Linked DNA regions of Homo sapiens. The protein of the gene in region 4 interacts with the protein of the main gene of each other region in a biochemical or structural test. Each region holds a gene or a part of one and is shown on either strand. Other genes may lie near its edges. The genes, in order: RAD51, PARP10, SHPRH and RAD18.

Region 1 (7,025 bases), on a different chromosome or scaffold from region 4:
AATCCCAGCTACTAGGAAGGCTGAGGTGGGAGAGTTGCTTGAACCCGGGAGGCAGAGGTTGCAGTGACCTGAGATCACGCCACCGCACTCTAGCCTGGGTGACAAGAGCGAGACTCCATCTGAAGAAAAAAAAAAAAAAGAATGCCTTTTTCTACTAAGGAAGTCATTCTTTTGAACCACACATACAACTTTGGGACGTGGGGTTATAGAAGAGACATTCTTCGGCCAAACTAACCCTGGCAATCACTACATTGATAAGTGTAGCCATAGTCTCTCTTATCTAAACCAGTAACCTACCTCTCAGCCACTGCCAGCAGCCGTTCTGGCCTAAAGGTACCCTCAGTGTCAATGTACATGGCCTTTCCTTCACCTCCACCCCGGTCAATGGGAAGCTATAGAGAACAAAAACAACAGTAGAAATGAACATTGTATTTCTGATACAGCTGACCAAGCTCCTCATGACATCTTTATAATTCCTCCAAGGCAAAGGGAAAAAAACATTTAAAAATGACAGTGGTAGGAAGGAGGCATTCCCTTCTGATATTAATAGAAATACAGCTAGAAAAATATGTAAAGCTGATTGTGTCTCAGTACATACAGCTAGTCCTGTCAGAACTGGACTGCTTAGAAATATAGCCCAAAGTAGGTAATAAAATTCTTTTCTTCTTTTTTTTTTTTTTCTTGCGATAGTCTCACTGTTGCCCAGGCTGGAGTGCAGTGGCGTTATCTCGGTTCACTGCAACCTCCACCTCCTGGGTTCAAGCAACTCTCCTGCCTCAGCCTCCTGAGTTGTTGAGATTAAAGGTCCATGCCACCACGCCCAGCTAATTTTTGTATTTTTAGTAGAAACAGGGTTTCACCAAGTTGGCTAGGCTGGTCTTGAACTCCTGACCTCAGGTGATCTGCCTGCCTTGGCCTCCCAAAGTGTTGGGATTATAGGCACGAGCCACTGCACCTGGCCTTTTTTTGTTTTGGAGACAGGGTCTCACTCCGCCGCCCAGGCTGGAGTGCAGTGGTGCAATCTTGGCTCACTGCAACCTCTGCCTTCCGGGCTCTGGAGATCCTCCCATCTCACCTCCCAAATAGCTGAGACCATAGGTGTGCACCACCACACCCGATTAAATTTTTTTATAGATAGGGTTTTGCCACATTGCCCAGGCTGGTCTTGAACTCCTGGACTCAAGTGATCTGCCCGCCTCGGCCTCTTAAAGTGCTGGGATTACAGGCGTGAGCCACCACACCTGGCCAGTAATAAAATTCTAGAACTGCATACCAACACAAGACTGATCAATTCAAAAGTACAGAAACTTGGAAGACCATTTACCTTAGCTTTAATCAATAATGGGCCATGATCCAAAGCCCAGTTAATTTTAGCATGTCTATATCAAACTTATACTTCACTTTATTGAGCAGTTCATTCTTTAGGGGTACTAAAGGGACTAGTCAATGCCCTCGGAGTGTCTATAGCAAATTTCGAGTGTGAGCAAGAAAGAAGAAAAAAACATATTTACTCCAATAGTATAAACAAGATGTTTAAAATGAACAATTGGAGAAAACAGAAAAATAAGTAGAAAGAATTTTAAAGAGAAAACAAAAAGGAAAGAAAAGAGAAGTAAATGAAATGCCATGAAAACTGTCTTATGAGCCACTCAAGGAAATCTCTGCTTTAGACTACCCATTCCATACCAGATACCTTTGAATTTTTCTACAAAGTTTAAGTGAATGATGCTAAAGGGTAATTTCTACTCTAGAAATCTACTTTGGAGTCATAATTCCCATTTAAATTATGAGGAAAATCCTTTAGAACATTTTATGTTAAAGGCCTAGGAGAACCAAATTTTTTCTTTCTTTTTTTTCTGAGACGGAGTTTCGCTCTTGTTGCCCAGGCTGGAGTGCAATGGCATGATCTTGCCTCACCACAACCTCTGCCTCCCGGGTTCAAGGGATTCTCCTCCCTCAGCCTCCCAAGTAGCTGGGATTTCAGGCATGCACCACCACGCCCGGCTAATTTTGCATTTTTTAGTAAAAATGGGGTTTCTCCACGTTGGTCAGGCTGGTCTTTAACTCCTGACCTAAGGTGATTCACCCACCTTGGCCTCCCAAAGTGCTGGGAGGCGTGAGCCACTGCACCCAGCCCAAATTTTCTTTCTTATCTTTGAGAATTTTTTTTTGAAATTACAAAACAACTATATGCTTATATTAAAAATCTAAACAATATAAAAGTAGAGGGCCGGAGGCCAGGCGCAGTGGCTAACGCCTGTAATCCCAGCACTTTGGGAGGCCGAAGCAGGTGGATCACCTGAGGTCAGGAGACCGAGACCATCCTGGCTAACATGGTAAAACCTTGTCTCTACTAAAAATACAAAAAATTAGCCGGGCGTGGTGGCGGCCACCTGTAGTCCCAACTACTTGGGAGGCTGAGGCAGGAGAATGGCGTGAACCTGGGAGGCAGAGCTTGCAGTGAGCCGAGATCGTGCCACTACACTCCAGCCTGGGTGACAGAGCGAGATTCCATCTCAAAAAAAAAAAAAAAAAAAAAGAAGTAGAGAGGCCAGGCATGGGGGCTCACACCTGTAATCCCAGCGAGTGGATCACCTGAGGTCAGGAGTTCGAGACCAGCCTGGCCAAAATGGTGAAACCCTGTCTCTACTAAAAATACAAAAATTAGTGGGGCGTGGTGGTGCACACCTGTAATCCCAGCTACTCGGGAGGCTGGGGCACAAGAATCACTTGAACCTGGGAGGCGGAGGGTGCAGTGAGCGATATCATGCCACTGCACTCCAGTTTGGGTGACAGAGTGAGACTTTGTCTAAAAAAAAAAAGAGGAAGTGGCGGAGAAAAAACTGAAAGCTCTTCACCACTCTCCATCTCCCAGAAATAATTTCCCAGATTATTTTCTATGCATTTTCATATACTTCTTTTATATAAGTGGTTCTTCCACTTACTATGTGACTGAGAATATTGTTTCCTTTTCTGTAAAATGTAAATAAAACCGACCTTATGGGATTGTTTTAAAAACTAAATAAAATAATTCATGTAAAGCGTTTAGCACGGTACACTCTGAAGACATGATTTTCCCAACCTTTAGGGCACTGACTTTAGTGTATACAGTTACGGAAGGCTTTGTTAATTTGGAAGGGAAAAATTACGTTACTATTTGGCAGATAAAATCTCTCACATCATGGGAATCCATGGAAGGAGCAAAGGACACATATACAACAAAAGAGGGTCATGCCTAAAGAAAGACTTGGAACCAGTGGCCAAGAGGACAGAGAGCAGAATCTGCCTCAGTTTCTTGGAGAGGAGGAAATATTAACACTCTGGGGACTAAGTCCCCAGGAAATAAGATGAACGAAGTTCTCCTTTCTCCTACCTCCAGGTAATATTAAGTGCTAACATGACAGGGGATTCTTTTCCAATTGAATAGACTTCCTTGGCAAAGGAAAGGCCACAGATGATTGGGAATAGGTAGGTAGACTGACAACAGGATAGTGGACAAGCTCCCAGGGTAAGATCATGGGGATGGATTGCATGCTCTGTTCTCCAGCTTATTTGGCCCTTTCTACCTTGCCCTCCCAGTGCCATCATAGCCATCTTCTGTTACTGGATTGGGATACCATCAGGTTAGCTCTTCTTAATAACTGCTTAGGAGCATAATTTAACACTTCTCATTTTATAGTGATGCAGTATGTTTCTAACTTTTACCATTTTAATTATGCTTTGGTATAAATTATTTGTACATTTATCTTTGCATATATGTGAAATGTTCTGTAAGACAAATTTTCTGTCAAAGGGTATGTGATTTTTTTGTTTTGTGGTTTTTTGGTTTTTGGTTTTTTTTTGAGACAGAATCTTACTCTGTTGCCCAGGCTGGAGTGCAGTGGCACGATCTCAGCTCACTGCAACCTCCACTTCCCAGGTTCAAGCAATTCTCTGCCTCAGCCTCCCAAGTAGCTGGGATTACAGGCGCCCACCCCCACGCCTGGCTAATTTTTGTATTTTTAGTAGAGACAGGGTTGCACCATCTTGGCCAGGCTGTTCTTGAACTCCTGACCTTGTGATCCATCCACCTCAGCCTCCCAAAGTGCTGGGATTACAGGCGTGAGCCACCATGCCCGCATGGGCATGTGCTTTTAAAACTGGTACTTATGTTAAATTGTCTTCTCAGAACTGTTTTTATTTTTTAATTGAAATGGGATCTCGCCATATTCCCCAGTCTTGTCTGGAACTCCTGGGTTCAAGCAATCCTCCGGCCTCAGCCTCCCAAAGTGCTGGAATTACAAGCATGAGCCACCATACCCGGCCCAGAATTTTAAAACTACTGCAGTACTTTGAACAAGCATGGGCTAATTCATTTTGTAACCTAACTGTAGCTCTCAACTTTATGACTTTTCTATTAGAGAGAGACCTAACATATAATGGGGTTTTACTTCATTAAATTGAGAAAACAAATGAGAGTAGATAATATTTAGATTTAAGTAATAGTCTAACATCCTCTCTATATCCCTGGTTCCAGCTCTTAGGCTGATGAAATGTAATCTTTTCTATTATTAATTAATTAGCATTCTTTTTCTTTAAAAAAAGTCAACGATCTATATAGTTGTTCAGCCATCTGTAAATGTTATTTTAACAGGCTATATTTACTTGAGAATTTTGCTTTAGTTTATTGTTGACAGACATTATCTGACTACTTAAACATTCTCAGATTAGGATTCTATTTGTACAACTTTGGAGTGTCAGCATGCTATGCTGAGTTGCCATGGCAACTATAGATATTATGTACTGTAGTCTAAATACTTATTCTACATAAGTCCCTGTCAAAACATGGGAAAACATTTCTATTTAAAAAGGTCACATATCATGTCAAATGACGGATGTAAGAGTGACATTTTAAACAGCCCTAATTCCCTTTAGCTATCAAATTTCTAATGGAGCTCACGCAATAGCTATAGCTTCTATAACTTACTCTTCCTCTTCTCAATGTTTCCTCCCTTATTATCATAAAAGGTCTCCTAAGCATCCTCCTCCACCCCTCCCCCTCAGCTCTTTCTTCCTAATGATTATGAGGATCTGGGTGCAGAGGCATTCACCTGTAATCCCAGCTATGTGGGAGGCTGAGGTTGGAGGATTGCTTGCGCTCAGGAGTTCAAGAACAGCCGGTGCAACATAGTGAGACCCAATCTCAAAAAAAAAAAAAAAAAAGAATTTATTTCTGAGGAGAGTTAACAATGGATTAGGTCTACTCGATACTGACATGCTAGCTTGGCTGTCTCATAAGACATATGGCAGCCAGCCAGGCACGGTGGCTCACACCTGTAATCCCAGCATTTTGAGAGACCAAGGTGGGCGGATCACAAGGTCAGGAGATCGAGACCATCCTGGCTAATACGGTGAAAACCTGTCTCTACTAAAAATACAAAAAATTAGCCAGGCGTGGTGGCGGGCGCCTGTAGTCCCAGCTACTCGGGAGGCTGAGGCAGGAAAATGGCGTGAACCCAGGAGGCGGAGCTTGCAGTGAGCAGAGATGGCACCACTGCACTCCAGCCCAGGCGACAGAATGAGACTCCGCCTCAAAAAAAAAAAAAAAAATTGTAACATTTTGGTCTGCAAAGAAAATATCAGTGGAGCAATAAACAATTAAAATGACAACAAAAAGCCGGGCATGGTGGCTCACACCTGTAATCCCAGCACTTTGGGAGGCTGAGGCGGGTGGATCACCTGAGGTCAGGAGTTCAAGACCAGCCTGGCCAACACAGCAAGACCTTGTCTCTACTAAAAATACAAAAAATTAGCTGTGTTGGGTGGCAGGCACCTGTAATCCCAGTTTGGGAGGCTGAGGCTGGAGAACTGCTTGAACCCAGGAGATGGAGGTTGCAGTGAGCCAAGATTGCGCCACTGCACTCCTGCCTAGGCGACAGAGACTCCGTCTCAAATAAAAAAAAAAAAAAAAAGGAAAATAAGAAAAATGGGAGGCTATCAAGCTAGGTTACTTGATGTTAAATTTAAATAAACTTGGGCCAGGCACGGTGGCTCACTCCTGTAATCCCAGCACTTTGGGAGGCCAAGGCGGGCAGATTAACTTGAGGTCAGGAGTTTGAGACCAGCCTGGCCAACATGGTGAAACCTCGTCTCTACTAAAAATACAAAAATTAGCTGGACGTGGTGGCCGTCATGCCTGTAATCCCAGCTATTCGGGAGGCTGAGGCAGGAGAATGGCTTGAACCTGGGAGGCAGAGGTTGCAGCAAGCCAAGATCACACCACTGCACTACAGCCTGGGCAACAGAGCAAGACTCTTTCTCAAAAAAAAAAAAAAAAAAAGAAAAGAAAAGAAAAAAAAACTCAACAGAGTTGAGTCCCGAGGATAGAAAAACACTAGGAAGCCTCTTCTGTAACACTGATATAAGGCAGATTTTGTTTCAGTTGTTTTGATCTCCAACAGTAAGTTGTGCCCATGGCAGAAGTGGGTATAATCTATCTAGATTAAAATAATGCCATGTTTTTCAAAATAACTAAAATTATAATAAAGCTTCAAAAGATTATAACAGAAGAGTTGGTCCATGGGCATGGGCCAGGTTCAAGGATACTTTGTGGACTGGCCACTTATGCAGCACATCCTTAAAGCCAGAGAACATTAAGACTCACTTAGACAAGGAAAAACGGCTCCCCATTACACTGCCTGAAGTTGCAGAAAAGATGAAAGTTTGTTAGCTTTCTCTTCTATATCCTACTCCCTTCCTTTCTCATGGATCTTTCGTTTCCAGATTCCATTTTTACTTCTCTGTGTGACTTAGTTCCACATCTCTCAATACAGCTAGAAATTTTCACTCGGGGTTTGTCACCTCAAACCTGTCATCTCTAAACCTGTACTCATGTTTCCAACAAAACTGTCTTCCCCTCTCAAACACTTTTTAGGTTTACTAAGTTACTGTAATACATTGTTGGGCTGAGGTGTATTTTTTATTGTCAGTCATCAAGCGCTGCCCTTTACAACATCTTTTCCCTACTTCTCTTTATTGTCACTATC
Region 2 (7,523 bases), on a different chromosome or scaffold from region 4:
CCTGCTCAAAGGCCGAGTGCACCACCAGCTGGGCCTTGCCATCAGTCCCCCCATCTGGGGGCTCTTCTGCCTCCAACGGGGGCTGCTCCAGCAGGGAGAGGGTTAGGGCTTGCCGCAGGGCAGCAGCCTCCTCCTGCTCAGCCACCTGACCTTGAGGCTCCAGTGACCGGTGGAGGGCCAGCTGCAGAGCGGCCTCCTCCTCCAGCCACCTGGGTGCCACAGTGCTGGGGGCCACAGGCTCCTCCTCCTCATGCCCTGGGGTCACCTCCTCCTCTGGCTGCTCCTGAGGCCCTTCCTCCTCCAGCTCCCGAGGCAGCCAGTCCTCCCCGTCTAGGTCTAGGCCCTCCAGGGTGGCCAGCAGTTCTCGGACCTCCTCTGGGGGCAGGGAGAGGCCATTGGGTCAGGGGCTGGACCCAGGAGGAGTTGGAATGGATGAAAGATGGGGAGCAAGTTTTTAGGGTACAGGGTGGGCCTAAGATGGGTCAGTAGACAGATGGGAGCACAGAGCAGGGCAGGGGGTGAGGTCAAGTGAGGGCCACAGGATGTGCTGAGGGCTCCCAGGGAGCCCTACCCAGGCTCACGTCCTCCTGGTCACCACCTGTACTGTCTGGGGTCCACAGGGTGTGGGCGTTGCCAGGGAGCACTGGGAGGGCCTCGGTAGGGTCCACCTGTAGGGAGAGGATGTCAGGACCACTAGCCTCTGGGCAAGGGCAGAGGAGGCCTGGGGCAGAGGCGTGAGAAAGGGGAGGGCAGGGGTGGGACTCCATCTCTACCTCTTCAAGGCCTGTGTCCAACGTGGCTGTGGCCAGGCGCTCTGTCCCAAAGACACACTGGAACTGAGCCTCCAGCCCCTGGAGAAGGTGCTGCCCTTCTGGGCCCAGGAGAAACCTGGCGCTGCCCGGGTGCTCCAGGCACAACACATGGCAGCTAATGCTGCCCAGCAGGCTCCGCAGAAACTCCTCAGCCGCCTGGCAGGAAGCCTGGGCTCCACAGAGCTGCAGGGCCATTGCAGAGATGGAGTTTGCAGGTTTAGAGCACAGGAAAGGTACTTTGAGTCCCCAGTAGGAGGAGGGGGCTGAAGGTGAGGAGTCCTGAGGGGTCACTCACCCGAAAGCCAGTCATATCCGGTCCTTCAAGTGGCAAGAGAGCGACGTCTCCCAGGCCCGCAAGAAGGTCCTCATGGTAGAGCTGCAGGAAGCGCATCGCCCCTGGCTCCATCAATAGCACCATCTCCACCAGGCCCTCCTGCCCTGCCAGCTTCACACATCCTGGGCTCACAGGCCCTGCCTTCTCCAGAGACCCCATGGTGATCTCCATGGGACCCACCAGCCCCTCTTGCTCTGGTGAGTCCATGGCAATTTCCACCAGGCCCTCCTGCCCCAGCAACCCCTTAGAGGTCTCCACTGGGCCTGCAGACCCCACAGGCCCCAGGCTCATGGGCCCCTCCTGTTCCTGCAACCCCACAGGCCTCAGGCTTACCAGCCCCTCATGTTCCAGAGACCCCATGGGCATCGAGCTGACTTGCTCTGCCTGTCCCAGAGACCCCATGGGACCTGTCCTCAGAGAGGTCCCTGACTGCCCTGGTTCCTGGCCAGAGCCTGTTGTCATAATCCCTCTACCCTGCACCATGGGACCTGTCCTCAGAGAGGCCCCTGACTGCCCTGGTTCCTCGCCAGAGCCCATTGTCACAGTCCCTGCACCCTGCAGAGCCGTCACCAACCCTCCGGTCCTCAGGAGAGCATGCTTGGTAGCCCTAGGCCCCTGGGTGGACGGGTGGTCCCCTCCACTGGTGTTCTCAGCCAGCTCCTCGGGCTCCAGGATGTCGTAGTGGGGGACAAGGCTCAGCTCTGAGCCCTGCAACCGGTGCTCCTGCTGCAACACTCGTTCTGCCACTTGGAGGAAGGGAAAGGACAGAAAGCCTGTCAGATTTCTGCAGGAGAGGGACGGTCGGCTGGGTCTGCCCAGCCCCACTCACCTTGCCACTGCTGGAAGGAGGCAACAGTGCCCAGGGGCCCGGGTAGGCGTTGCAGGTCCTCCAGGGGCCCCCCACCACTGCGGCGCTCATTCTCCAGGTACAACTCCAGCAACAGCAGGTCCACAGAGGCACCATCCCCCACCACACGCACCGCTCGGGCCTGGGGAACCCGGGCCAGGGACACCAAGGTCCCCTCCAGGCCCAGATTCTGGGCCTGCTCCTCCAGGACACGGACATCTGTGGGGTATGTGCAGGTCAGCTCAGGGAATCCCCCCTAGCCAGCACCTCAACCCCAACCCTGCCTCTCACCTGCCTCAGAAAGGGGCTTGGGCAACTGGACCAGAGCCCGGTCTGGCCGGGGGCTGGCCAAGGCACAGCAAGGCTGTACTGGGAGCCCCGAGGCCCGCAGCAAGGCCTGGACATGCTGCTCCAAGCGCTGGGGCGTGGTGCCAGGGGGCAGTCCTTGGAGCAGCAGGCGTGCAGGGGCTCGTGGTGGAGCTGGCCGCAGGCTCAGCTGGGCACCATGTAGTTCGTGATCTGCCTGGGCCAAGACCCTCTCGGCGTCTGTGGGCAGGGGCGGGGCAGGATGTCAGGCATTAGAATATCAGGGCACCCAGGCTGTCCCTTCAGCCAGCCCTCTCACCTGCAGGCTCTCTGAAGGTGAGGACGCCCCCACAGCCCAGTCTCTGCCAGCTCAACACAGGTCCCCCTCCAGAGCGTCGGCGGTTTTCAAAGTAGAGAGTGAGCAGCTCGTCGGGCACGGCAGGGGGCAGTCCACGGACCTCCACTGCCACCCCTGCCTCTGCCTCCGCCATTGCAACCCTGGGACGGGGCATCAGGTGGGTAGGGAAACAGCCCATTCCACCCCTCCTGCCCCTCCCCAGGCCCCTCCAAGGTGTGTCCTCAATGCTCCCCCATTATGGGTGGCCCCACATACAGCACTTACATTCCCCGTGGCCGCTAGGCAGCCTCAGGCCATGAGCTCAGCCAGGACTCCTGTGCCTGCCCCTCAGCAAGCCTAACCCTGCTGGGAGCAGGAAAACAAAAGTGAAACTGAAAGACGGAAGGAGGGAGGGAGCAGCTGGGCCCTGGGCGCTGAGGCCTGGGTACTGGGGCTCAGATGCTTCCTCTCCTGCTGCAGCCTCAACCCCCAGCTGACCAGGAGGTATTGGCCAGGCTGGACCCCTCAGGACCCTCCAGCCAACCCAGCCCAGCCCACCGGCCCTACCTGGCCCACTCCAGCCCCTGGTTGGCAGGGTAGACAGGAGTGTCCCCTGGTGGCCCTCCACTCCCCTGGCCTCCATGGCCTGAAAATGGCCAATCACCCGCCCCACTAAACCCACCAAGGGGCCTGAGTCACTGCCCCTCACTCAGGATCTCCAAGCCTCTGTGTCCATGACACCCTCTGCACACAAAGTGCTGGGTCTCCAGGCCCGCCCCCGGCCAAGGCTGGCCTTCAACGCCCCCAGCAACCTTCTCAACCCTGCTCCTGGTCCCTCACACCTGCCAGGTGCTGAGCATGGGCGGTTCCCCACCCTTGGTCTCCAAGAATGTGCATTGCAGCACAGCCTTCCTCCCGCCTCAGGTCTTGCCTGCCCATTCCTGCAGCTTTCTGTCCTGCCTGCACCTCCCCATCTCACACCATCATTGGCATCGTCACAAGTAACCTCAGAAGGTGACAAGGTAATGGCTCCACTGCATTCCTTGCTGCCGCTAATCCTCACCACAGAAAGGGAAACGGAGGTGCAGACAGGCCCATAGCAGCACCAGGCCTCAAACCTGGGCGGTGCCTTCAGAGTCCACACTCCCACTCGCCACAGATCTCCCACATCACCCAAGCTCCGTTTGCTTCCAGCCTTTCAAAGAGCTGTGGCCACTACCACTCTCCATCTCCTACTTCCCACTCACCCCTCAGCCCACCAAAACCCAGCCCCACCCCTGCTGTTCCTCCCTCCAGGGAGCTGAGGACCCTGGCCAGCCTGCACTCCTAGCCCTGCACATGCCACACCTCTGCTGCCCCGACCCTGGTCCCAGCCTCCAGCATCTCTCGCTAGGTAGCTAGGCTAACCTCTTAACTAGTCTCTGTCTGCCACTCCCATGGTGGGTCCTCAACAGAGGTGTCAGGGTGAGCCTTGTAAAATGACACCAGCAGCTGCTACAGCTCCCAGCATCAGCAACAGTAGAAACCAAAGTCCTGGGGGCCGGGCGCAGTGGCTCATGCCTGTAATCCCAGCACTTTGGGAGACTGAGGCAGGTGGATCACGAGGTCAGGAGTTTGAGATCAGCCTGGCCAACATGGTAAAACCCTGTCTCTACTAAAAATATAAAAATTAGCCGGGCATGGTGGCAGGTGCCTATAATCTCAGCTACTCAGGAGGCTGAGTCAGGAGAATAGCTTGAACCTGGGAGGTGGAGGTTGCAGTGAGCTGAGATCGTGCCACTGCACTCCAACCAAGGTGATAGAGTGAGACTCTGTCTAAAAAAAAAACAAAAACCCAAAGTCCTTTTGAGGACCTGCCCCCTGCCCAGCTGCACCTGACCAGACCTCAGTCCCTTCTCTGGCCCCATGCCCCCTGCACACCCTGATGCTCAGAGGGCTCCAGGCTCTCAGCTCTTCCTGCAGAGCTACAGGCCACTCCTGCCTCAGTAGCCTGGGACTGGCCCTTCCCTCTGCTTGGCCCTACCTTCCCCACAAACCCCCATGGCCACCCCTCTGGCATGATCTCCCTTACTCTGCCTTTTTTTTTTTTTTTTCTGAGACGGAGTTTCGCCCTTTCACCCAGGCTGGAGTGAAGTGCCGTGATCTCGGCTCACTGCAACGTCCACCCACTGGGTTCAAGGGATTCTCCTGCCTAAGCCTCCCAAGTAGCTGGGATTACAGGCACGCACCACCATGCCCAGCTAATTTTTGTATTTTTAGCAGAGACAGGGTTTCACCCTATTGGGCAGACTGGTCTCAAACTCCTGACCTCAGATGATCCACCTGCCTCAGCCTCCCAAAGTGCTGGGATTACTGGTGCCAGCCACCATACCCAGCTATTTTATTTTTATTTACTTATTTATTTATTTTTTGAGACAGAGTCACACTCTGTTACGCAGGCTGGAGTGCGGTGGCACGATCTCAGCTCACTGTAACCTCTGCCTCCCAGGTTCAAGCCATTCTCCTGCCTCAGCCCCCCCAATAGCTGGGATTACAGGTGCACACCACCACGCCCAGCTAATTTTTTTTTGTATTTTTAGTAGAGACGGGGTTTCACCGTGTTAGCCAGGATGGTCTCCATCTCCTGACCTTGTGATCCACCCGCCTCGGCCTCCCAAAGTGCTGGGATTACAGGCGTAAGCCACCGCGCCCAGCAAGCATTTTATTTTTCTTAAAGGTCTCTCAAATTTTGTGAGCTTCTGCTTCTACAAAGGTAGAAGTTACCTTCTACAAGGGTAAATCCATCCCTGCTTTTTCCACGTTTTCTCTAATGGAACTCATCACAGGTTATCCATTACGCCGACCCTGGCTGCAGAGGGCCTGCCACAGGCACCACTCACACCACAAGCAGACTGGTACAGTTTCGGGAATTTCTGTGGACTGGTTGTCCAGCTGGGGGTAACTTGAAACCAGCCCCGGTGGAGTATTCACACCACGCGCATGTGCAAAACACGCACCCCAGGCTTCCCCTCACTAGGTCCGGCTGCTAAACACTGCGCCAGCGCACCATAGGTGCAGGACTCAGAGCGGCCTGGGAGAGGCCGGCCCTCCAAGGGCGGGAGGGCAGGTGGGGTCTGGGCCCCGGGTGGGAAGGCTGGCAGCAGGATGTACCCTGCCTGTGTCAGTCACTGCTCCCCCAAGAGGACTTGGGAGCTAAGCAGGGAGGTGGCCTGGCCTCCAGTCCTGCTGCATCCCCAAGCCTCAGCCCCTCGCAGCTTGTGAGGACGTTAGGCAGACAAGCGAGCGTTCAGGGTCTCTAGTGTGAAAACAAGACATCGTATTTGTTAGTACAAAGGGTGACTGTGGTCAAGAATAATTGTACATTTTAAAACAACTCCAAGAGTATAACTGGATTGTTTGTAACACGAAGGACAAAATGCCTGAGCTGATGGATACCCCATTTACCTTGATGTGATTATTATCCATGGCATGCCTGTATCAAAACATCCCATGTAGCCCGTAAATATACACCTACTATGTATCCACAAGAATTAAAAAAATAAAAAAGGGTCTCTAGTAGCAGGCCTGGCAGAGTTTGGGCTGACAGAGCAAATGGGGCAATTAAACCACGAGGCCTCGATTTGGGAACTAAAGGATTAGGCTTCTTGATTTGGGAGAGATCTGGATGAAAAGAAGTGAACGTCGGGTTTTAAGGCCGAGAACGGACGGTCAGTCCCGGGCAGCTTCAGCAAATCCCGCATTTAGGAATAAATTTCTTAACTACCGAACGGCCAGTCAAATTGGCCAGACCAGACTTCTGCCTCCAGGGGTCTTCAGCGCCCACCGCCCGACCCCACCCCTCGGCAGACAGTGAGAGGCGGGCCTCTGGCCGGAGCGAAGAGGAACACGCAAGGCGGCGCAGCGGGAGGGGTCCGCGGAAGCCCCGCCCACCTGCCCCTCCCACCCCGAAGCTCGCCCGGCCCCGCCCCCTGCCCCGCCCCGTCACAAGGCCCCGCTGCGTCTTCCGAGCCGCAGGCGCAGGCCCAGCTGAGCGGCCGCCGAGCGGGTGCGGGTGCGGGCGCATCGGCCATCACCGCGCGGCCGCGCAGCGGACACCGTGCGTACCGGCCTGCGGCGCCCGGCCACCGGTGAGTCCCCGGCCCGAGCCCAGGAGCGCCTCTGACCCGCTGCGCCGCGCGGCCTGCCGCCCCCGCCCCCGCCCCCACGCGGATCTTGCGCATCCGAGCGTGGCCGCCTCGGGTCAGTAAGTTGGTCCGGCCGGGGCGCGCGGCAGCTCGCGGCCAGAGGTGGCGGCGGTGGTGGGGGCGGGGAGCCGCGGCGGCCTGGAGCCGGAGGGAGGGGGCGGCGCGCTGCGGCGACTGCTGGACCCGTGACCCTGTGCGCCCCCGGCCCGCGGAGGGCCCATCCGCTCTCGGTGCCAGTGCCACGGCCGCAGCCCCTACCCGCCTCGCCCCACGCCCGCTTTGTTCCCCGCACGCCCCGTGGTCGCTTCCATCCCCCACACACCCCCGCACCCCGCTGTTCCCGGCGTACCCCACTGGCAGGCACCGGCAGCCGATCCAGGCCCGATCCCCCCACCCCGGAGCCAGGGGCCGTTGGGCCCTGTTGTTGGGCTCGCGGGGGTGGGGGGGCTCGGGCCTTTGTTGGTCACAGATGGCCCGGGGATTTCCTGGGATAGAAATAGCCGCCGGCTCCGGCCCCTTAAAGCTGCTTAAGGGGCGGGATGCGGAGGGGAGGGTCCGGGCACACCCCACACGTCCCCGGCCGAGACCCCAGCCTCCGCGCTGAGCTCCCACCCGGGAGACGCCGGCAGCGGCGCAGGCCTCCGGTTGCTTGTGAGAAACGACCCAAGCCCCAAATCCCGAGGCTGGCGGTCGTCCCCTCGCC
Region 3 (7,025 bases), on a different chromosome or scaffold from region 4:
TTCATTTGCATTCAATCATACAATTCCAGAGACAAAATCGAAGCATTTGAAAAGGCAAAATAGCAAACAGATAAATGGTTAAATGACTGCTGCAGTAAGAGGAACTGATGATGAGGACCAAAACAAGTCACTGAAAGTAGAGATGGAAGATCTTGAAAAAGTGTAGCCTGAAAATGATTAGTTGTAACATACTTTGAATAGTTATTAAAAGCTTAAAGTGTACTTTGAAACTTAACAATGAAAGGCTTATTGCTGGCTTTTCAGACTTCTCTCACAAGTTAATTTAAAATTGGACTGCCAATGTAGAAGAGCCTCAAAAAAGACACCACAAAAAACTGAGTACCTTGATAATGTGATTTCCTTCTGGTTTCTGATAGAGTTTTATTCTTCTCTTCTTTTGTAGCCACCCCAAATCTTCTAACATTTCACCACTGAAGGATGACTCCACCAGAATACCCTTGTCACAAATACTCATCGGTTCTTTTTTTTGTTTCTCTACATCTTCACCTTTTGAATGAACATAAATCAGGAACTGATTGCTTGACTCTGAACTCATCAATGTAATACTCCTTTCGGAAAAATTTTCAATTAAACTCTGTGCAGGAAGAAGCTGAAGAGTTAATTCTCCTAGAAATGCTTTCCAGGAATTATCAAAATGATAGGGAGAAATCACAATATTTAACTTTACAGACAAAGGGGAAAAAATACCAACAGTCTCTTCTTTTTCAATTGGTTTTGAGAAGCTCACCACTTTTGAACACCTCTTCTTATCTCTGTGAGCCACTTCTTCCTTTAGACTATCACTTAGAATGATATAATGAGCAGAAGAGGTATCTGAACCTGGGCAGGGCTGCTCGTCATCATCACTTATGATGATAGGTTCATTCCTTCTGTCCTCATGCATATTCCAATGAAGCTGCTGCCTCTTTTCCTCATCTACCCTCACTGGAGGAGCACGTTTCCGTCGGCTGCTCATTTTCAAGTTTTCTTGGCTGGTAACTGTGAACTCTAGAGGACAAATGAAACAACAGGAGGTATAACAAGAGATGATTTAGTATTTAAGGGTTACCAGATGAGAAATTCAGCATAAATTCATAGCCCATAAACATAATATGAAATCTTCTGTGAGATATAAGGCAATGAGTAATTTTTTTACCAGGTCATTATGACTAAGGAATGAACATATTAACCATAATCTCATTTATCAAATAAATTCTAATGGTTTTGCTAGTCTTTAATAGTAAAGGCAATTTGTTGTATAAAATAAAATAAATTGTAGAAATACATTTAATAAGCAATATAATAGGAAGGTAAATCTCTCAATCCCAAGTAATTTAACTGCCCCTCAGAACAAAGCCCAACAATACTTAAAAGAGCGAAACAAAATCCAACACAAATGTCTGGCATCAAATCTAAAATTATCAGGCACGCAAAAAAAATGAAAATAAAACAGAAAAATAAGACCCATTACAAGAAAAAAATCAAAAAGCCCCAGAAAAGACACAGATGATATAATTAGCAGAAACAAACATTCAAACAGCTACTGTAAATATTCTCAATATGTTAAAGGTAGAGGAAAACATGAATATGACAAAGAAAAATGATAGATATACAAGTGACTCCTATAGAATTTATGCAGATGGAAATGCAACATCTAAAACGAAAAACACATTGTATGAGATTACCAGCAGATTAGAAATGGCAAAGAAAAAAAGAAGCAGAATAAGCTTAAACAATGGAAACAACAGTAACAACAGAAACTGTCAAAAATGAAGTAGAGATAAACAAAGACTGAAAAAACAATAAATAGAACATCAGAAACCTACTAGACAATGTTAAGGAGTCAAACATGCATAAAACTGGAATCTCAGCAGCAAAGAATGGAAAGGATACAAAAAACTTTTTGAAAAAATCATGCATGAAAATTTTCCAACTTCTATAAAAACCATCAACTCAGAAAACCAAGAAGCTCAATGAAACCCAATCAGGGCAAACATAAAGAACAATCACAATAAGGTATGCCATAATTAAATTACTGAAAAGTGAGGACTTCTCTCCAGATTGGCCCTATTTCTCTGGTTTAGACACTGCTCCCACCCCACAGCTCTAAACCCAGCAAAATATCTTTCAAAAATGAAGGTGAAAAAAAGATCAACAAAAGCCAAAAGGACTTATCACCTGTATACCTACAATCTAAGTAATGTAAGAAGCGCTTGGGTAGAAGAAATATGACATCAGATGGAAATCTGGATCCACACACAAGGAAATAAAAAGCAAAAACAAAAAATATGTGTATAAATATAGTAAACTTTTTTCTTGATTTTTAAATTTCTGTAAAAGATAACTTACTATACTTTCATTCTGAAAATTTTCAAGCATACATAAAAATTTAGAAAATAGTATAACAGTATAATCAGAGATCTATACAGTGTACTATGTTCATGGACTAGAAGACTCAAAATGTTCAGATGTCAATTTCTTAGTACTGACCTATAGAAAAGCAATCCCATTCAAAATTCCAACAGGTTTGTTCTGTAGAAACTGACAACCTGATGTTAAAATTTATACTAAAATGCCTACAATACAGGAAAGTCAATATAATTTTAGAAAAGAAAAATAAAGTTGAATGACTTACACTGATTCCAAGACATATGTCAAAAGAAATAAAAATGGTGCAGTAGTGGTGTAAAGACCAACATATAGATCAAGGGAAATGTCCTGTAGTGGACCCACACATGGATGGTCAATTGATTTTTGAAAGAAGTTCAGAGGCAGTCAATGGGAAAGGTATCCTTTTAGTAAATGGATACCAATATGCAATGAAATGAAGCTTTACCTCCTAAAATGTAAGAATTAACTAAAAATAGATAATAAACTATAAAAGCTAAAACTAAAACTTCTCAAAGAAAACAGAGGAGAAAACCTAAATGACATTGGATTAGCCCAAAAAAAAGGCACAAAAATTTTTAAGCAGGAAACAAAAACCATAGACTATGTAAGAATATGATAAACTAAGTTTCATCAAAATTAAATATTTTGGTTCTTCAAAAGATACTGTCATCAAAATATGACAGCAAGTCACAGATGGGAGAAAATATTAGCAAATCAAGTATCTGATGAAGGATATGTTTGCAGAATATATAAAGAACTCTCACAAATTAATAGTAAGACAAACATTTAAAAAAGTCAAAAATTTTGAATAGACATTTCACCAAAGATGACCTATAAGTGTAAAATAAGCATATGAAAATATTTTCACCAGCATCAGTCATTAAAGCAATACAAATTCAACCCACAAATCACAATGAGATGCCACTATTCATATACTAAAATAGTCAAAAATTTAAAACACTGAGAGTATGGCTCAAACAGAACTGAACTCTCCAACATTTGAACACAGCACAGTCACTTTGGAAAAGTATCAGTTTCTAATAAAATTGAATATAACTTACTATGCAGCCTAGTAATCCCTCTCTTAGGTATTTATCCAAGAGAAATCAAAACATAAATCCACAAAAATTTAAACTTGAATGTTAACAGCTTTACTATTAAAAGCCCCAAACTGGAAGAAAACCCAAATGTCCATCAACTGGTGAATGGACAAATTGTGGCATAGTCACACAATGGAATACTATTCTGTGATAAAAAGAGACTTCTGTAAAATAACCTGAATGAACTGTTAAAGCATTATGCTAAACTGAAGAAAGCTAGATGTGAAAGACTATATACTATATGATTCCATTTACATGAAATTCTAGAAATGGCAAAAACCTGATTGCAGAAAGTAGATGAGTGGTTACCAGGGGCAAGGAAGTATAAAGAGGTGACTGACAGTAAAGGAGCAGGAAGGCAGGCTTTGGGGTGACATAAATGTTCAACACATGATTGCAGAGTATACATCTGTCAAAACTCATCAAATTATATACTTTAAATTGAATTTTCTTATACATAAATTATATCATAAAGTTGATTTAAAGAGCAAAAACAAAAAGATGCACGAGATTTAGAAATTTTAATATTAAGTATAACTTTATTCAATAAATCTGAAAAATCTAGATAAAATGATAAATTATAAAGTGATAAAATTTTGCTAACAAAATACAAATGAACAAAACTGGCCCAAGAAGGAAAATATGAATAGACCAATAACCATAAAAGAAACTAAAGTGACATTATTTACCTGCCTAAGGTCTATCCTCCTTCCCTGATGACTGAACCTTTATTTAGGAACAAGGTGGCCCTATGATTCAAAGGAAGTGATTTCCTTGGCACCTCCAAGGAAGTAGTTTCTAGCTACTATTGGCCAAAGCAAATCCAATAAGGTAGTTATTGGCTGCATGTGACTACTTAACTTTCAATACAGTTATGCATTGTATAATGACATTTTGGTCAATGAGGGACCAAATATTACAGTGGTTCCATAAGGGAGCTGAAAAATTCCTATGGACTAGTGACATCATAGCCATTGTAACATCATAATGCATTTATTTATTTATTTATTTATTGAGATAGAGACTCACTCTGTTGCCCAGCTGGAGTGCAGTGGCGTGATCTCTGCTCACTGCAAGCTCCACCTCCTGGGTTCATGCCATTCTCCTGCCTCAGCCTCCTGAGTAGCTGGGACTACAGGCGCCTGCCACTATGCCCAGCTAACTTTTTTTTTGTATTTTTAGTAGAGACGGGGTTTCATGTGTTAGCCAGGATGGTTTTGAACTCCTGAACTCAAGATCTGCATGCCTCAGCCTCCCAAAGTGCTGGGACTACAGGCGTGAGCCACCGCGCCTAGCCGCATTACTTTATTTTTTAATAAACTTTGTGTAGCATAAGTGTACAGTGTTTACAAAGTCTACAGAAGTGTACAGTAATGTCCCAGGCCTTCACATTCACTCCCTGACTAACCCAGAGCAACCTTCAGTGTTATAAGCTGCATTCATGCTAAGTACCCCACAAAGGTGTACTATTTTTTATCTTTTATACCATATCTTTATTGTACATTTTCTATATTTAAATATGTTTAAATATACAAATACTACGGTGTGACAACTGCCTACAGTATCCAGTACCGAATATACTGTACAGGTTTGTAGCCTAGGAGCAGCAGGCTGTACCATAGAGCCTAGGTGTGTAGTAGGCTGGCGGTACCACCTAGGTTTGTGTAAGTATACTCTTAAGATGTTCACACAACAAACTTGCCTATGATGCATTCCTCAAAACACAGCCCCATCATTAAGTGATGCATGACTATAAATAAAATTAAATGTTATAAACTCAGCTCTTCAGTCTCACTAGCCCCATGTGCTCAGTAGCGCTATGTGACTAGTGGCTACTGTACTGGACAGCACAAATATAGAGCATTCACATAATTGCAAAAAGTCTATGTATCAGACAGTGCTTGTTTAAGTCAATCATGAGAATTCTATTCCCTTAGCCCGTGCTTCACTTATGAATGTGCAGGTGATGGATTAAAATCAATCCTTGGCTATGGTCAACTACTTTTAAAGCATCTTATCCTCTCTTATCTTAGTGGAATAATATAGAAAGCTCTTAATTTCCTAAGTGTTTATGTTTGTCCAGTTTTCCTCAAAGCATAAGCTGGAATACTGAAAGTGGGTCACTCTGCAGGAACTTTAAAAAGTTATGCTATAGTAGCTTATCAGTTAACTACTGCCACAAACATGCTGTGTAACACACTACCTCAAAGCTCAATACCTTGATATAGCAATCATTTATTCTCATAGATCTGCACATTAGCTGAAGGAGGCTAATCTAGGCTAGGTTTCTGGAAAAGCAGTTTGGCTCTGCTTAATGTAGTTCCTATCCCCTCTCCTTGGATCAGCAAAGTAACTCAGGAATGTTCTTTATGGCAATGGTTGAGGTGTATTACTGCAAATCCAATCACACAAGTAGTTTTCAAAGTGCTTAAAAACCACTAAGGTGCCACAGACCAAAGCAAGACATATCCATGGACCCAATGTCAAGTGGTGAAGAAATATACTACACCTCTTTACTAGGTGAAACTGCACATGGCAAAGAGCATGGATATGGGGGGTGGAAGGGTAGAGGGAGTGTTGGAAGGGAATTGGGCCAGTTACACAATGTATCACACTAACCATAATAATATTAATAACATGGTTATTGTGGAATCATTAACTCTGAAAACCCAAAAAGCAACTGTCTAGCAGAGTCTCACATTAGCAAAGCGATGTGGCTTAAAGGTGAGAATGCAATGCTTTGAAGTCTTATATTCATTCTAATTCCAGCTTTGGCATTTACTGACTGTGTGGCATTGGAATAGTTATCCAGTCTTCTGTGCCAATTTTCTCATCTCTAAAATGGGGATGATAGCAGGATTGTGGTTAGAAATAATTTAAGTACAACAGCAGTACTAGAAATTTGGCCTGTATTCCATAAATGGTAGTTGCTACTTATCATCATCCTGAGAACACTCTAAACCAGCAGTTCCCAACCTTTTTGGTACCATAAATGGGTTTCATGGAAGACAAGTTTTCCATGGACCGGAGGAGAGGGGTGGAGTGGAGAGGGGGTTGTTTAGGGATGAAACTATTCCACCTTAGATCATCAGGCATTAGGTTTTAATAAGAAGTGCACAACCTAGATCCTGCGCATATGCAGTTCACGATAGCATTCATGCTCTTATGGTAATCTACTGACTGTTGATCTGACAGGAGGCACAGCTCAGGTGGTAATGCTCGCTTGCCCGCAACTCACCTCCTGCAATGCAGCCCGGTTCTAACAGGCCACGGACTGGCACCGGTCCATGGCCTGAGGGGTGGGGACCCCTGCTCTAAACCACATTTCACAATAACCAAACTGTAATGTCGCAGGATGGGGGACCACAGATTAGTGCTTCTCAAACTTGACTGCACATTAGAATCACCAGGGGAACTTAAAAAAATCCTGATGTCGAGCCAACTAAGTCAGAATGTCTTGGAGAAGGGCCCAGGCACTACTCCCTTTATTTTTTAGAATCCCTAAAAAATTCCAGGGTGCAGCCAAGTTCAAAA
Region 4 (7,025 bases):
GCATGTCTTCAGCACAGCAAGGCCAAATCTATGTAATATACTCATTAACCCCACCCTGAGAACGCCCAGTTGGACCAGATAAATAAATACCACATAGTATGATGCTACTAAAGGAATTTGGTCTTGACTGGTAGTCCCTTCTAAGTTTGAATCTTTTCCTGATTTCTATGGTATCAGTTACCAGAATCAAATGGGTGTCTCTCTTGACTAAGTTTCAGCGTCATTAAATAACACTGGCAATAAGCAATGATTCTGATAGGTAGGCATTTTAAATCAGTACAATTCATTCAGAGGGCAATGCCTACATATCAGAATAATAAAGATAAGTGGCCAGGTACGGTGGCTCATGCCTGTAATTCCAGCACTTTGGGAGGCCGAGGTGGGTGGATCACTTGAGGTCAGGAGTTTGAGACCAGCCTGGCCAACACGGTGAAACCCTGTCTCTACTAAATGTACAAAAAAAAAAATTAGCCAGGCGTGGTGGCACAGGCCTGTAATCCCAGCCACTTGGGAAGCTGAGGTAGGAGAAATGCTTGAACCTGGGAGGTGGAGGTTGCAGTGAGCCGAAATCGCACCACCGCACTCCAGGCTGGGCAACAGAGTGAGACTCCGTCTCAAAAAAATGAAAAAAAAAGTATTCAATAGAAACAAAGGAAGAGCTTTACCATAGCATCAGGTACATAAGTAGAACACTGGGAAAAATGTAGAGCTCTAACAGAAACTGAAGGGTCTGGTAAATTATAGCGCAGAGACATAACAGAATACTGTACTCATTAAAAAATAACAATTATAAACATAAGCTATTATGTTGGTGCAAAAGTAACTGTGGTTTCAATTACTTTTGTGCCAACCTATAGAAACGTAACATTTATGACATAACATTAAGTGAAAGACCGGAACAAAAACTGGTATGTGTGTGTGCATGCGTGTGTGTGTGTGTGTGTGTGTGTGTGTGTGTAAAATAAACCCTATATATTTTTTAAAATATCTTTTCAAAATGACTCATTACCAAACTTCTCATTTTTAAAGTTTCCCCATCTATTCTATTTACTCAGTTAAATTTTTCATTTCTTAACCCTCCTATGCGCCATGTCTTTCTGATCATTTCTGTTTTCCAATATAGTTGTTTTTATCTCCTTTACTCATCGTCTTGACAAAAATTTCACTGTCTATCATGCTTTCTTTTCCAACGGTAGGAAAAGTATCTACATAAAGGCTATAGAGTAGAGACCAAACTCACCCTGTGATCCCTGCACTACCTTCCCAAATCCTGCCTTGTTATCACTGTGAAGAAGACCCAGCAGTAAAAGGGGACTGAAATGTAAGAGTGACACACCATGCCATGCCTCAAAGCTACATTCTAATTATTTCTGCCTATCTATCTACATGTGCATATGAAGTAGATATTTAAAATAATCAACTACTGCATGTTTCTTACCTATTGCATGAATCTGATTCTGATGAAGAAAGAACTTCTTGAATATCAATACAGCTAGAAGAATCCTCTTCTCTGTCAGGTTCCAATTCCTCTGGGGAGTCCAGCTTTGATTGAGAAAAGTGGTTTGTTACTGAGGTCATATTATCTTCCTGTCCTAGGAAAAAATAAATTTAAGAGTACCTTAAAATCTACAACTTCTGTATGCCTATTACTTCTGCAACACTTAATACTGCCATGTGCACTTAGTAAAGTTGAAGTATATGTCACATAGATTCCAGAACTCTAGTGACAGCCAGAGAGCAAGAATTAACACTACAATGGTGCTATCTAATTATACTGTCCAGCCCATGTTTTTCCAAGATTAATTAGTTTAAAAATAAAATTTATTTTAAAACCAGAAGCAGGAAGAATCTTGTAATTCTAATGAGGCCTCTATTAACATATCACTAAGGAATTCTTGCATATTTCATAGATCAGAGAACACTGACAAACCAACATAAGAAGTATAACCAAAAAAAGACTACAGATTCAACTAATAAGACAACCACAATATTTGCTACTATTATATGATAGTGAATCTATCTGGACATTTTTCTAAACATTTTTCTAGGTTAACTAGAATCTAATTATTCTCTATGGAAAAGGACAACTAAACAGACATAAGGAATATTTCCATTTGATCCAATACACATCACATTTCCGTGCATTCTTTGTCATATTCTCAGATTTCAAGGTCTCTTATTGCAGATAAAAATAAAGACCCCAAAAAGCTGGAAGGATGCAGTGTTTACAAAAATGTGGCATATGGGTATGGCCAATTTTCTACAAATATGAGTGGAAGAATATCTGTGAAAGATTCTTTAGTGCCCAGGATTCTCCCACTCATCATGAACGCTGCTGGGATTTTCATCTGTGCTGTCCTTAACTTTCAGGAACTGAGGAGGTACCTCACATGCAAGCTACATGTGCTAATAATACTACAGAGCTCCTTTCATGTGTTTCCTCACAGAGAAACAGAGCTTTCACACATCACTCATCAAGCACTTGTAGAGGCAAGTGGTCTTCAACAAAGCACACTAAAAATACAATTGTCAAGGTTTGATTATACAGAGAGAATTTATGGGGAAAGAACATAACAAATTCTTCAAAAAACCTTGCCAAGTTCATACAGTTAAATTTTTTTCAGAAATAGTTCTAAGTTTTTGTTACACTGAGAGAACAGCATACTTCACAAGAGTGTAATTCCTAAAAATATGCTCCTAATGTCATCTGGCTGTCAATAAACTATCATTAGCAAAACAAAACAGCACCCTCTAATGTATATCTGGAAAAGGGAAAAAGAATTTAGCCAGGATGACCATCCTGAACCTCTAGGAACTCCTCTTGTAAACAGATACCAGAATCACATTAAGAGGAGCCAATCCCCCAGTCAACTCGGTTCACCCAGGGACTATATTACTCAACTAGTGAGGTGCATGCAAGCAAGCTAGCAAACCAGGGAACAGGAATTCAACTTAAAACAATCTTTTATTTTTGCACATTGTCTGTATTCTTTTCTTACTTCTTCCACTCTTACATACACTTCTAGAAGATATATTCCCTCTTGGGAACAAACAGCATTCAATAATCTGTGGGCATAAAAAATAAGTTATCCTTCCTACTTGCCCTTAGATCTCAGAATGCAGGACTCCAAAATAGAGCCCCGAAGAGTGAGGCTCAGACATCAGAGCTCCCCAGAGACACACAACAAAAACAGGCTAAGTTTTCACTTGAGAGAATATGCAACTTGTTCACTTACATGAGCACTTCAATGTTCTAAAGAGCAACAATTATATTGGTTGTATGATGCTATACAAAATCCATCTTTTCAGTCAGTCTGTGTCTGTCTTCATCTCTCTCACATACCTTACCCTCTCAGACATCTCATTCATGCACAGCAATCTAAAAGCAGCAATCACCTCTGAACCCCGGAAAGAGTAATATTGATGTTCATAAATACATACAAGCCATCAATGATATTCAAGAGAGGTTCAACTAATTAAAAAAACTTTTCTTAATGGGAAATATTCAGTCAGATTTTCTCAAGTGCTAAACTAGTTTCTAGAAATATCCTTTAACAACTGCATGAACAAGTTCGAGTTGTTCAATGACCATGAGTTACATACTGAGGCAGCACTTTATGCACAAATTGTTTATTAGTCACTAGGGAAATGCAAATCAAAACCACAATGACATACCACTTCACATCTACAATTTTTAAAAAATTTAAAAATCAGAAAATAACAAGCATTGATGAGGATGTGAAGAAATTGGAACCCTCATGCTTCGCTGGTGGGAATGTAAGATAATGCAGCCACTATGGAAAAGTTTAACGATTCCTCAAAAGGTTCTAAACATAGAACCAGCATATGAATCAGAAATCGCACTCTAAGCTGAAACTTAAATATCTGACCACCAATGCTCATAGCAGCATTATTTATAAGAACCAAAAGGTGGAAATAACCATAGCAGATAAATGGATAAACAAAATATGACATATACATACTATGGAATACTGTTTAATCAAAAATTTTAAAATATTTTAAAATTTTAAAATGTGCTACAACATTGAAGGACTCTGAAAACATTATGCTTAGAGAAAGAAGCCAACACACAAAGACAAATATTATACAATTCCATTTATATGAGGTACCTGGAATGGGCAAACTCATAGACACAGAAAGTGGAATTGTTATTACCAGGGCTATGAGGCAGAGGGGACGGAAGAGTTGCTATTTCATGAGTGCAAAGTTTGTGCTGGGAATGATGAAAATGTTTTGGATATAGACAGTGGTGATAGTTACACAATATTGTGAATGTACTTAATGCCAATGACTTGTACATTTATGAAGGGTTAAAAAGATAAACATTGTGTTATGTATATTTTACCACAATATAGAAAAACATAATAAGCAATTTTCTTGCGCACTTTCCCCCATTATGATTCTTTTTTGTTCACTGGTCCAAAGCCCAGGCAATAGAATTAAAATATCAATTTCAAATTTTAAAATGGATCAAAGTTAAGGAACGTGCTCTGTATTAGCCTACCAGGTATGTTAACTTTAGACTGTTTGGCAGAACATTTCATCCAAAGTAAACACCAGTGTTCTATCACAAAAATAATTCACTCTCTTTACAGGATCTCCACCAATAAATTCTATATCTAGAAAACATCCTGAAGCTTAAATAACAAAGAAATTTATGATTTATCATTAACTGAAAGGACGATAGACAAAAAGAGATTGTTTCTTCAGGACATTCTTCCAACCACTTTCCCCATAGTAATAAATCTAGTTTACAAACTGCTACATGAAGTTTGTCTAAAAATACTTTTTCTCATTTCAAAGAACTAAGAACTCCAAAGTAAATTTCTTTGGTTTAATTTTTTCATATTAAAAGTAAATAATGAAATTCGACATATGTCTGTTTTTAATTATAGTCTCTTACCCATGCATACAGAAGATAGCTTTTCTGTAGATTCATCTTCTTTTGTTATTGTTACTGTTTTTTGTGACATTCCAGCAATTTTCTTGTATCCTTTTCTAGCCTGATCCACCAGAAGCTGAAATTCACTCTTATGTTTTTTACCTGAAATTCAAAAGATCTTCTCAGTAAAGCTAGGACTATGAAAGTTAACCATCTACAACTGACAAACTGAATATCAAGAGGTGTACAAGGGATGGGCATGGTGGCTTACGCCTGTAATCCCAGCACTTCAGGAGCCTGAAGTGAATGGATCACTTGTCAGGAGTTCGAAACCAGCGTGGCCAGCATGGTGAAACCCCATCTCTACTAAAAATACAAAAAAAATTAGCCAGGTGTGGTATCACATGCCTGTAATCCCAGCACTTTGGGAGGCCGAAGTAGGTGGACCATTTGTCAGGAGTTCGAGACCAGCCTGGCCAACATGGTGAAACCCTATCTCTACTAAAAGTACAAAAAAATTAGCCAGGTGTGGTATTGTGTGCCTATAATCCCAGCTACTTAGGAGGCTGAGGCACAAGAGTCACTTGAACCTGGGAGGCAGAGGTTTCAGTGACCCGAGATTGCACCACTGCACTCCAGCCTGGGCAACAGGGCAAGACTCTGTCTCAAAAAAAAAAAACAAAAAACAAAAAACAGAGGTGTACAAGCTTGCTCAAGAACAGCATCCTTAGGAATCACTTGCAATAAATTTAAAAGCTGCCAAGCATAAGAATACAAAGGGCTGGAGTGTCATGGAACCTTCTTTTTATCTTCTCCCTTCCTCAAATACAAATATGGAAACATGATATTCCTAGTTAGCTACTCTAGGTTTCTTCCCAAACTCCATTCTCTAGAAAGGCTTTTACATAATCATAAGAGCATGAAAGATGCCCGCTTTCTTAAATATATACAAATGATACCATTCTAACTTCCAAGATACAAGAGAACTAAGAGTATTTGCTGAATCTAAAATAGAAGCTTCTAGGAAAGTTGAATCATCATAACAAAGGAATGTCCGTCTACTCCAGCTCTCCTTTTTTTCTTCACATTTCCGGCCGGTTTCCCAGTAGAGCCCCTTTAAGATTCTAAGATCTCTCCCAACCAATTCTACCTTATCTTACGATACTATACTAACTCTAATCTTTATTTACTACCATTTTAACACCTTTGAATATAATTAACCCTGACCTCAAGATCATCATTATTAATGTACCAATCTGTTCAATAAAGAGCAGCCAGTCATCATTACTGTATGGACTTTAGGGCATGTATTTGTGATTCTGAACCATGCAGCTGAGGTCACAGTTTACTTATCTAGCAACGTTAAATACTTAGGCCACAGTCCAAAGTAATGTCATAAATCCTATAAAATTTTTAGGGAGAACCATACTACAAATGGTTAAAACAAAATTTTGACACTGTTTTCATACAAAAATCAACAATGTACTTGTTATCACTTGGTTTCTTCCATTTTCCTTAGCATAATACTAAGGCATAGGGAATTTACTGGGTGTAGGGAAAAAATTGTGCTTCAGTTGAACTATGGCATTGTCTAAATCTACTCTCCCAAGATTCCAGCCATTCACTGCCTTTGAGCTATGGTATAACTCTGTATGTTGTAGATAACTGAGAGCAATGGAAAATAATTCTTGTCTATAGATATGCAAAATCCTGTTGGGTGGAGGTTCAATTGACTTTCCTCCTCCAATGTGGAAGAAGCCAGTTTTTTGCTCATTATACATTCATTTCAATGTTCCTCATCTGTAAATGTGATGATTCTTTGGCTCCTTCTTTGATCACCTCATAATATCAGTCTTCTCTCTACTAATGAGTTTAAATCTTTAATAAAAACACATGTTCATTTTACATCCATATGAGAATGATGTTAGTTGTTTTTGAAAATTATCTTTTAACGCAAAAAGAGAAAACACTAAATTGTGACGCACAAGGAAGAAAATAGTTGGATTCCTATACATGAATATTGACAGGCACAGCAAAGACATTCAGGAAAGAATGCTCCTAATTACAATATTTTTATGTGTATGGTACATGTATGAAAACTTCTAGTGAAACTAATGTTGGG

Evidence for each region.
Region 1: the proteins of RAD18 (region 4) and RAD51 form a complex in vitro, tested with the Homo sapiens proteins (one study listed by BioGRID).
Region 2: of the proteins of RAD18 (region 4) and PARP10, one has a biochemical effect on the other in vitro, tested with the Homo sapiens proteins (one study listed by BioGRID).
Region 3: the proteins of RAD18 (region 4) and SHPRH form a complex in vitro, tested with the Homo sapiens proteins (one study listed by BioGRID).

Annotation. Positions count from the first base shown.
Region 1 is NC_000015.10:40,712,172-40,719,196, reverse strand, and holds part of RAD51 (DNA repair protein RAD51 homolog 1), read right to left. Parts: intron 393-7,025; coding exon 298-392; intron 1-297.
Region 2 is NC_000008.11:143,983,437-143,990,959, forward strand, and holds the start of PARP10 (protein mono-ADP-ribosyltransferase PARP10), read right to left. Parts: upstream 3,025-7,523; 5' UTR 2,924-3,024; coding exon 2,922-2,923; exon of another isoform or gene 2,836-2,921; coding exon of another isoform or gene 2,798-2,835; coding exon 2,619-2,797; intron 2,540-2,618; coding exon 2,285-2,539; intron 2,213-2,284; coding exon 1,976-2,212; intron 1,893-1,975; coding exon 1,108-1,892; intron 996-1,107; coding exon 774-995; intron 669-773; coding exon 572-668; intron 376-571; coding exon 1-375. UniProt on the Homo sapiens protein: ADP-ribosyltransferase that mediates mono-ADP-ribosylation of glutamate and aspartate residues on target proteins. In contrast to PARP1 and PARP2, it is not able to mediate poly-ADP-ribosylation.
Region 3 is NC_000006.12:145,954,347-145,961,371, forward strand, and holds part of SHPRH (E3 ubiquitin-protein ligase SHPRH), read right to left. Parts: intron 1,009-7,025; 5' UTR 977-1,008; coding exon 344-976; intron 1-343. UniProt on the Homo sapiens protein: E3 ubiquitin-protein ligase involved in DNA repair.
Region 4 is NC_000003.12:8,897,456-8,904,480, forward strand, and holds part of RAD18 (E3 ubiquitin-protein ligase RAD18), read right to left. Parts: intron 5,066-7,025; coding exon 4,925-5,065; intron 1,593-4,924; coding exon 1,439-1,592; intron 1-1,438. UniProt on the Homo sapiens protein: E3 ubiquitin-protein ligase involved in postreplication repair of UV-damaged DNA. Postreplication repair functions in gap-filling of a daughter strand on replication of damaged DNA.